3 linked regions of the Homo sapiens genome follow. The protein of the gene in region 1 purifies or fractionates together with the protein of each later gene. This does not show direct contact. Each region holds a gene or a part of one and is shown in the gene's direction. Other genes may lie near its edges. The genes, in order: EDAR, NDFIP2 and FGFR2.

Evidence for each region.
Region 2: the proteins of EDAR (region 1) and NDFIP2 purify together in Homo sapiens (affinity purification with mass spectrometry; one large-scale study listed by BioGRID and IntAct). This does not show direct contact.
Region 3: the proteins of EDAR (region 1) and FGFR2 purify together in Homo sapiens (affinity purification with mass spectrometry; one large-scale study listed by BioGRID and IntAct). This does not show direct contact.

Annotation. Positions count from the first base shown.
Region 1 is NC_000002.12:108,912,603-108,916,259, reverse strand, and holds part of EDAR (tumor necrosis factor receptor superfamily member EDAR precursor), read left to right. Parts: intron 1-3,495; coding exon 3,496-3,582; intron 3,583-3,657. UniProt on the Homo sapiens protein: Receptor for EDA isoform A1, but not for EDA isoform A2. Mediates the activation of NF-kappa-B and JNK. May promote caspase-independent cell death.
Region 2 is NC_000013.11:79,484,151-79,487,807, forward strand, and holds part of NDFIP2 (NEDD4 family-interacting protein 2), read left to right. Parts: intron 1-3,657. UniProt on the Homo sapiens protein: Activates HECT domain-containing E3 ubiquitin-protein ligases, including ITCH, NEDD4, NEDD4L, SMURF2, WWP1 and WWP2, and consequently modulates the stability of their targets. As a result, may control many cellular processes.
Region 3 is NC_000010.11:121,477,824-121,480,787, reverse strand, and holds the end of FGFR2 (fibroblast growth factor receptor 2 isoform 1 precursor), read left to right. Parts: intron 1-674; coding exon of another isoform or gene 675-737; exon of another isoform or gene 738-766; coding exon 767-931; 3' UTR 932-1,117; coding exon of another isoform or gene 1,118-1,207; 3' UTR 1,208-2,456; downstream 2,457-2,964. UniProt on the Homo sapiens protein: Tyrosine-protein kinase that acts as a cell-surface receptor for fibroblast growth factors and plays an essential role in the regulation of cell proliferation, differentiation, migration and apoptosis, and in the regulation of embryonic development.

The DNA of each region.
Region 1 (3,657 bases):
GCTGTTCTTTTGCTCTGACAGTGTATCTTAAGCTCCCTTGAGCGCCTTACTGAACAGATAGATCAGCTTCTTTTCAATCTCTTGTTTGCTCTTATAAAGGAAATTAGGTCATGCTGGAAACTATGCCATGATGCCCCTATGCTCACTCACCTGATGAAGTGTGGGAGGCTACCCCCCAGCAAACAGAAATGGGCACACAATCTGAAGCCTCCTTATCACACTGGAGACTTCCAGAGCAACTTCAGTAAGGTCTGTGAGGGGGAACGCTCTGTTGTTTGACATGGGCTTGTGGCTTTCAGCTAGGGGCACGCACTTCTCCACCAGCTCTTTTTTTATTTTTATTTATTTTTTATTTTTTTTTTGAGATGGAGTTTCGCTCTTGTTGCCCAGCATGGAGTGCAATGGCGTGGTCTCGACTCACTGCAACCTCCGCCTCCCGGGTTCCAGCGATTCTCTTGCCTCAGCCTCCCCAGTAGCTGGGATTACAGGCACCTGCCACCAGGCCCAGCTAATTTTTGTACTTTTAGTAGAGTTGGGGTTTCACCATGTTGGCCAGGGTGGTCTCAAACTCCTCTTAGGTGATCCTCCCGCCTCGGCCTCCCAAAGTGCTGGGATTATAGGCATGAGCCACCGTGCCTGGGCAGCTCTTTCCCTAATAAGAACACTGGTTCTGAGGCCAAGTAAGAGGCTAAATTAAGAAAGCAAAGATTTATCATAAGTTTGAGGCCCACGAGGAAAAAAGCCTCCATTCATCATCCAGAAACACAAGGAAACATCATTTGCCCCTCAGTGGACAGGTGATGTTTCTTACATACCCTATGACATAGCTGCCCTGGTCCCTCCCAAGCCCAATGTTTCATTGGCCAAGCTTCCAATTTGCTTTACAAGGTGTGAGGACAGAGAAGCATCCAGCCCATTCTCCTGTGGCCCTGCTCCATTTAGAGCAGACACGAGTGGATAGCTCAGCTGGTCACTAGCTCCTGGGCTGCCCCCACTCACAGAACAAGAGTGTGCGTTTCTCCTGAGAACTTCCTACTAAAGAAAACAGCCAGCCCAGGCATGGATTACAGGCTCACACCTGTAATCCCAGCACTTTGGGAGGCCAAGGCAGGTGGATCACTTGAGGTCAGGAGTTCAAGACCAGCCTGGCCAACGTGCATTTTTCTCTATAAAAAATACAAAAAGTAGGTGTGGTGGCACACACCTGTACTCCCAGCATCTCAGGAGGCTGAGGTGGGAGGATCACTTGAGCCCAGGAGGCAGAGGTTGCAGTGAGCCAAGATCGTGCCACTGCACTCCAGCCTGGGTGACAGAGTGAGACCTTGTCTCAAACAAAACAGAAAAACAGTCCAACTAGGAAGCTTGCTTCTCCCGGAAGCCTTGCTGCATGGGCTGACCAGGCACAGTGCTGGGCCATTCCACTGGGCTGGGCCAGGCTGGGGAGGTACCTTGATTTGGGGATGGCAGCTGGCCTTGTCCTTGACTCAGGGGCTGCTTTTCTGTAGACCAAGTGCACTTCACGGATTTCTCCAGAACTGGTAGAGACAAAAGTGAGAGAGTGGGAGATGCATTTGAAGCATGTTGGCTTTATTATTTGCAAAACTGAAGTCTGGCCCAAAAGAAGGTTGATCTTCTTTTAGGAGGTCTGGAACAGGACGTGGTCTCTTCTGTGGTGGAATGTTTTTGTTTTGGCTGAATGGTTGCGTCTTAGTGATTTGACTGAGAGCAAAATCAGCTTCCATTTTATCCCCGCTAAGTCACACTTTTTCCATAGAAGGGGAGTTGTGGGAAGCATAGCTTTAAGGGAAGGCAAAGCACACCTTGCTCTGAAACTCTTTGGTCACAACCATGTAAAAACATGTCTGAGGAAAAATCCTAGGCAGAAATACAGCAAAAGTCCACTTAGCCAAGGAGGCCATGGGTAGTTCTTTTCCTCCTTTCTTGTGTTCTTATTTTTCCAGATTTTTATTTTTATTTTATTTTTATTTTATTTTTTTTTGAGACAAAGTTTCACGTTTGTTGCCCAGGCTAGAGTGCAGTGGTGTGATCTCGGCTCACTGCAACCTCCACCTCCCGGGTTCAAGCGATTCTCCTACCTCAGCCTCCTAAGTAGCTGGGATTACAGGCATGCGCCATCATGCCTGGCTAATTTTTTGTATTCAGTAGAGATGCGGTTTCACCAGGTTGGCCAGGCTAGTCTTGAACTCCTGACCTCAAGTGATCCACCCACCTTGGCCTCCCAAAGTGCTGGGATTATAGGCATGAGCTACCGCGCCCGGCCCCTTTTCTAGATTTTTTTTTTTTTTTTTTGAGACGGAATCGCACTGTGTCACCCAGGCTGGAGTGCAGTGGCGCAATCTCAGCTCACTGCAAGCTCCGCCTCCTGGGTTCACGCCATTCTCCTGCCTCAGCCTCCCGAGTAGCTGGGACTACAGGCGCCTGCCACCACGCCCGGCTAATTTTTTGTATTTTTAGTAGAGACGGGGTTTCCCTGTGTTAGCCAGGATGATCTTGATCTCCTGACCTCGTGATCCGCCACCTCTTGTCCTTCTAACAAGAAGAACTCATACCCATACTACGTAAAGATAGCTATCGCATACACTTTTATCACCAGCCTCCTTCCCACAACAATATTTATATGTATAAATCAAGAAGCTATTATTTCAAACTGATGCTGAACAACAATCCCAAAGTGCTGGGATTACAGGCGTGAGCCACCATGCCTGGCCCCCTTTTCCAGATTTTTAATAGTGAGCATATATTACTTTTATGACTGGAAAAAGTATTAACACATTCCTACTCTATGTAATTGAAGGAATTAGTCAAGTATTGTATCACCCTAATAGTACTTTCATGTACACACTCTATGTTGCTTATTTTTATGGATTTCATATACTTTGTCTCCACGCATAGGAAAATTGAGTTGGTGAGGCTTGCAAAACTCCCCAACCCACACTGTTTAGTTTTAGCAGACTTATCACATGAGTGTTTTCATTTAAAGAACAATAACCAGCCGGGCGCGGTGGCTCATGCCTGTAATCCCAGCACTTTGGGAGGCCGAGGCGGGCAGATCACAAGGTCAGGAGATCGAGCCCATCCTGGCTAACATGGTGAAACCCCGTCTCTACTAAAAATACAAAAAAATTAGCCAGGTGTGGTGGTGGGTGCCTGTAGTCCCAGTTACTTGGGAGGCTGAGACAGGAGAATGGCGTCAACCAGGGAGGCAGAGCTTGCAGTGAGCCGAGATCACGCCACTGCACTGTAGCCTGGGCAACAGAGCAAGACTCCGTCTCACCAAAAAAAAAAAAAAAGAACAATAACGATGACTCTTTAGGGTTCATTAAACAGTCTAAGAAATACAAATATTTAGCTCCCCTCAGCCATCACTGCCTCAGGCCCATTCATGATCATGAATCCAGATCCATGAGCTCTGTGGCAGCGTCTTTGAAGGTGGAGCTTCTCTGGATCATTTGAGGGACTCTATTTTCCTTGCAGGTGTGGGAGCCACTTCAGGAGCTTCTGCCAACTTCCCTGGCACCTCGGGCAGCAGCACCCTGTCTCCCTTCCAGCACGCCCACAAAGGTGAGGAGGGTGCTCAGGTATCGATCACCTGGAGTTAGGTGGTACTCGGATGAAAGCTCAGAAGAGGAGAGGAAA
Region 2 (3,657 bases), on another chromosome or scaffold:
GACTACAAGTGTGGTGCACCACACCTGGCTAATTTTTGTATTTTAGTAGAGATGGGGTTTCAGCATGTTGGCCAGGCTGGTCTCGAACTCCTGACCTCAAATAATCTGCCCGCCTTGGCCTCTCAAAGTGCTGGGATTACAGGTGTGAGCCACAGAGCCCGGCCAAAGTTCTCTATTTTAAAGGATTATGTACCTGTACCAAGCTGACTTCTAAGATTGTACCTGTACCAAGCTGACTTCTTATTCTGTGTACAAGTTAAATTGGCAGTGTTGATTGTAGCAGTAATTTCCCAAACTGTATTTCAGAATGATAGTAAGTGTAACTGGAAGATTTATAATACATTAGCATATTAAAACCATGAAAAATTCTGCAGTAAAGACAGTGATTTGGATTTCTTTAACCTAGCTCTTCCTAATCTTTGTTTTGTTTTGTTCTTTGTTTTTAAAATTTTAAGATTATGTTAACATTTCTACAATATCAATTTTCTATGGAACATAATTTGAAGTATTCATTCTACAAAGATCTGAGTACTTTGCTCTTGTATCTGGGGAATTAGAGTTGCCCTCGATAAATTAGCTGAGAAGGAGGCTTGAAGGAGGCCTGACTATTAACGGGTAAAAAACCTACAGGTTTTAAAGCCATCTGGGCTTATATATTAGATTGTGCTGTTTGCAATTTGTGAGACCTTGCTTAGTTACTTTACATCTTGAAGCCTCAGTTTCCTTATATTAGTATCTACCTGACAAAGATTATTGTGAGAAATAATATAATACATGTGTAAAACATGTAAAGACTGGTACATGATAAATAAGTACCCTTTTTACAAGCTAATAAGTTAGTGTGTTAATGTTTCACGGTTTCTGGCAAAAAAGAGGTGACCTCCAGGTTAAAGACTGATCATTACTCATGACATAGCAAGCAGCACGAACATCAGCATATTTGTGTAGGTTTTCCTAGCTACCAAATTCCACAGAGGGGCTGGGTGTCCATATGGATTCGTGCAGTGGGTTTGCATCACAGCTGAGGAACTCAGAAACTCAGAACCAAGGGTGCAGCTCTTTTTTTTTTAAAGCAAGCAGCAAATATCTTAGCAAACAACAAACAAACTAGTTCACCTTCTCCTGGGATGGCAGTTACACACTGTGGTTGCCTGATCTTTGTTCCCTGTGTAACTTATTAGAAGAAACAGCTCAGTATGAGGAAATGGAAAGCTTTACACACACTCAGCAAGAATGTGCAGGGACATTCAGGCCCATGGCTGACTGCCTTACTGAATAGTACATGTTCTGGATGAGATAATGTATAATGAGTTTTAGTTATACTCATTTCATTTTCCACTGGAAAGAAGTGTTGCAGGCTCTTACCTTTCCTTACTCTCTAGTTGTCACCTTTTCTTGCCAGCCTTATTCCTTTGATCGTCTCTTGTTTGTTTCTTTTGAATTTATCAGTATACTTTATCTGGCTTATATTCTTACCACACCTCTTTTACATAATCAAGGTTACCCAACTGCATAGTCTGATAGCTACTTTTCAGTTCTCATGTTGCTTGATTTCTCTGTTATACTGACAGTATGAATGTTCTTTGAAACTCCGTCCTTATTCCTGATACAGTTAATAAGAAGCTTTCTACTTCTCTTGACTTTTTCTGACTTTTCTTGTCTTAGTGAACTCTTTTTGTACTTAATCCATTCTCCTTAAATATTGATGCATTACCTGGCATGGAATATTGTCTGTTACTTTCTTCCTCATTTGACCATCCTTCAGGAATTGTTTGCATCGTGTGAATCATATTTGTAGAATATAGGTTGAGTATTCCTAATCCAAAAACCCGAAATCTAAAATGCCCCCAAATCTGAAACTTTTTGAACACCACATGATATCACAAGTGGAAAATACCACATGTACGTATTCAACACAACTTTGTTTCATGCACATATAGTCACGTTCATCTTTGGGTCCCATTCCCAAGATATTTCATTACGTATATGCAATATTCCAAAATCCAAAAAAAATCTGAAATCCAAAACACTTCTGGTCCCAAGCATTTTAAATAAGGGATACTCAACCTGTATAAATTTTTTGTTCTTTTGCTCAAAAACCTTCAGTGGCCCCTTACTGAATCTGCCCCCAACATTTAATAACATTTAATATTAAAACTTCCAAATTTTTAAAAAAGTTGAAAGAATTGTACAGTTAACCTCCATACAAATTGTGGGCTCTACAGTTAACAGTTTATTCTATTTGTATTGTTGTGTATTTATCAATCCATCTATTTTTCGATCCTTTCAAAGTAAGTTGCAGGGATCAGTGTACTTGCATGCAAGCCACATGTTTATCATTAGCCTACATTTTAATATTTGTTTATGGTTCTTTTTCTTTGAGGTAAAATCAATGTATATTAAAATGCACAAATCTTACATGGCCTAGTGGATGAACTTTGGCAAATTCAGATACTCATGTAACCCAAACCACCTTTGACATGTAGAGCAGAGATCAGCAAACTGTGGTCCAACTCCTGGTTTTGTAAATAAATTTTATTGGCACACAGCCATGCCCATTCATTTACGGTGGTAGGGTTGAGGACATTCATGTACTGCATAATGTCTTTTCATTCAATGAGGGACCTTATATACTGGGGTCCTGTAAGATGTGTTTAGATAAATACTGTTGTTTTACAGTTGCCTGCAGTATTCAATACAATAACGTGCTGTACAGGTTTGTAGTCTAGGAGCAATAGGCTAGACCATACGGCATAGTATGTAGTAGGCTATATATACCATCTAGATTTGTGTAAGTACGCTCTCTGATGTTAGCACAGACACTCATCCATCATAGGGACCCCACCCTCATGACGTCATCTAAACCTAATTACCTCCTATAGGCTCTAACTTCAAATAACATCACTCTGGCGATTAGGGTTTCAACATATACATTTTGGAGAGACACAAACATTCAGTTTGTACCACTGCCCTTTACAGATAAATTTAATGACCTGATACAGAATATTACCATCACCCTAGAAAGTTCCCTTATTATCCTTACTAGATCAATTCATACCCCCCAGGTGACTGTTCTGATTTTTTCACTTCAAATTACCTAGTTTTGCCTATTCTAGAATCATACAGCATGTAGTCTACAAAGCTTCTTTCATTCAGCATGAAGTTTTTTAGATTGATCCATGTTTTTGTGTATATCAGTAGCTCATCCCTTTTTATCATATAGTTTTCATCGTATAAATCGAATGAATACACTGCAGTTTATCCATTGCTGTTGATATTTGGGTTTTTAGTTTTCTTTTGCTGTTATGAGTAAAGCTGTTATATTCTTGTACAAATCTTTCTGTAAAGCTGATAGGAATGAATATTCTTGTACAAATCTTTTTGTGGACATATGTTTTTATTTTCCATGGGTGGAATTACTGAGTAATAGGGTAGGTGTATGTTTCAATTTTATAAGAAACCACCAGACTTTTTTCCAAAGTCATTATGCCATTTTACACTTCCACCATCAATGTATGAAGTTTTGGTTGCTCCACACACTTGCAAACATTCTGCTGCTGTCAATCTTTTTAATTTTAACCATTCTGGGTTTATTAAATTTTTGAAGTTTAAAATTCCTGTTCTTAGCATACAAGTTTTTTTGAATGGGCCCTCCCT
Region 3 (2,964 bases), on another chromosome or scaffold:
TGCCTTGGGGAGCAAAGGACACTTTCTGAATCTCGAACCTTCAAAACTTTGAAACTTAACCGATATTTTCCTGAAGTTTCCTTTAACAGTGCATTATGGATTTAACATACATGAGTATGTCTAAGCCTTTTTTGAACCTGTTTACATTTTCAACTCGGAGAGCTTCTGAGAGTAATCAGTTACATCTGTTAAATTACCCACTGAATGAAGAAGTATTCCCCTTCAATTATCCCCGAAACTACAATAGTAAAATGTAATTCAGAAAATAAATATTCATAGTCTCAACTACTTAAAGGGGGTCTGGGGACCCACAACATGTTACCGGTTTTCATTTTGCTGGGGCTCGCATTTGAAGCAAGGGCTCTAGTGAGGAGGTGGTGTAGACTCAGCGGGTTATTTAGGTCCGTGTGAAGCCGAGTTGCCTGCCCAGCACCTATAGCTCAACTAGGTTTTATTGTTCTCTACCTGTCAATAGTTGATTTATGATGGATTCCAAGAGAAAAGCTAAGGACAGCCTGGGGTACATCAGACGTGGTCTCAGGGAGGTCTTCGTGGAAGTCAGGTGGGCTGGGTCTCTGTTCACCTTCTAGGGGTCTCCTGTCCTGTCCCACGTCCAATACCCACATCTCAAGAGTTTGTGTTTGAAATAAAACTCTTCTCTTCCCTTCTTTCAGGAATACTTGGACCTCAGTCAGCCTCTCGAACCGTATTCACCTTGTTATCCTGACCCAAGATGAAATAAAACGTCTCTCTTCCCTTCTTTCAGGAATACTTGGACCTCAGCCAACCTCTCGAACAGTATTCACCTAGTTACCCTGACACAAGAAGTTCTTGTTCTTCAGGAGATGATTCTGTTTTTTCTCCAGACCCCATGCCTTACGAACCATGCCTTCCTCAGTATCCACACATAAACGGCAGTGTTAAAACATGAATGACTGTGTCTGCCTGTCCCCAAACAGGACAGCACTGGGAACCTAGCTACACTGAGCAGGGAGACCATGCCTCCCAGAGCTTGTTGTCTCCACTTGTATATATGGATCAGAGGAGTAAATAATTGGAAAAGTAATCAGCATATGTGTAAAGATTTATACAGTTGAAAACTTGTAATCTTCCCCAGGAGGAGAAGAAGGTTTCTGGAGCAGTGGACTGCCACAAGCCACCATGTAACCCCTCTCACCTGCCGTGCGTACTGGCTGTGGACCAGTAGGACTCAAGGTGGACGTGCGTTCTGCCTTCCTTGTTAATTTTGTAATAATTGGAGAAGATTTATGTCAGCACACACTTACAGAGCACAAATGCAGTATATAGGTGCTGGATGTATGTAAATATATTCAAATTATGTATAAATATATATTATATATTTACAAGGAGTTATTTTTTGTATTGATTTTAAATGGATGTCCCAATGCACCTAGAAAATTGGTCTCTCTTTTTTTAATAGCTATTTGCTAAATGCTGTTCTTACACATAATTTCTTAATTTTCACCGAGCAGAGGTGGAAAAATACTTTTGCTTTCAGGGAAAATGGTATAACGTTAATTTATTAATAAATTGGTAATATACAAAACAATTAATCATTTATAGTTTTTTTTGTAATTTAAGTGGCATTTCTATGCAGGCAGCACAGCAGACTAGTTAATCTATTGCTTGGACTTAACTAGTTATCAGATCCTTTGAAAAGAGAATATTTACAATATATGACTAATTTGGGGAAAATGAAGTTTTGATTTATTTGTGTTTAAATGCTGCTGTCAGACGATTGTTCTTAGACCTCCTAAATGCCCCATATTAAAAGAACTCATTCATAGGAAGGTGTTTCATTTTGGTGTGCAACCCTGTCATTACGTCAACGCAACGTCTAACTGGACTTCCCAAGATAAATGGTACCAGCGTCCTCTTAAAAGATGCCTTAATCCATTCCTTGAGGACAGACCTTAGTTGAAATGATAGCAGAATGTGCTTCTCTCTGGCAGCTGGCCTTCTGCTTCTGAGTTGCACATTAATCAGATTAGCCTGTATTCTCTTCAGTGAATTTTGATAATGGCTTCCAGACTCTTTGGCGTTGGAGACGCCTGTTAGGATCTTCAAGTCCCATCATAGAAAATTGAAACACAGAGTTGTTCTGCTGATAGTTTTGGGGATACGTCCATCTTTTTAAGGGATTGCTTTCATCTAATTCTGGCAGGACCTCACCAAAAGATCCAGCCTCATACCTACATCAGACAAAATATCGCCGTTGTTCCTTCTGTACTAAAGTATTGTGTTTTGCTTTGGAAACACCCACTCACTTTGCAATAGCCGTGCAAGATGAATGCAGATTACACTGATCTTATGTGTTACAAAATTGGAGAAAGTATTTAATAAAACCTGTTAATTTTTATACTGACAATAAAAATGTTTCTACAGATATTAATGTTAACAAGACAAAATAAATGTCACGCAACTTATTTTTTTAATACTCGTGTCTTACCAAATGGTTTCCTGTGCTTGGAGGTGCTGACTGAGTGCTGTTGTGAATGCAGGAAGGGCAGGGCTGCCAAGGGTCTTATGTGCTACACACGGGGGTGACTTGCCAGAGGGGTTGACTGAGACCAGCAGTACCTGTGACAGGTTGAGGTTGATCCAGTGGAAAATCTGAATCAGTTGGTTGGAGCCCTGGCTCGGTTGCTTACTGGCACCTCAATGGAATCATCGTTCCTTTCTGAGCCCTACCAGTTCCCCAGAGGAGCAAACAAAGAGCCACATGGTAGAGAGCTTTGCAAACTGGAAGGTGACCTAAGGATGACAGGTATTGAGTAGGGAAGACGTTCAGAACATCTGAATCCTGGGGACTTAAAAACCTTTTAGGCTGTTTTCTTCATGATGTATGGAGAGAAGGATTTGCTTCAAATTTTCCAAAAGAAAACTTGGACAAATGTTCGAATAATTATTTATTTTCATACCACCAACGATCTGAAGAGGGAA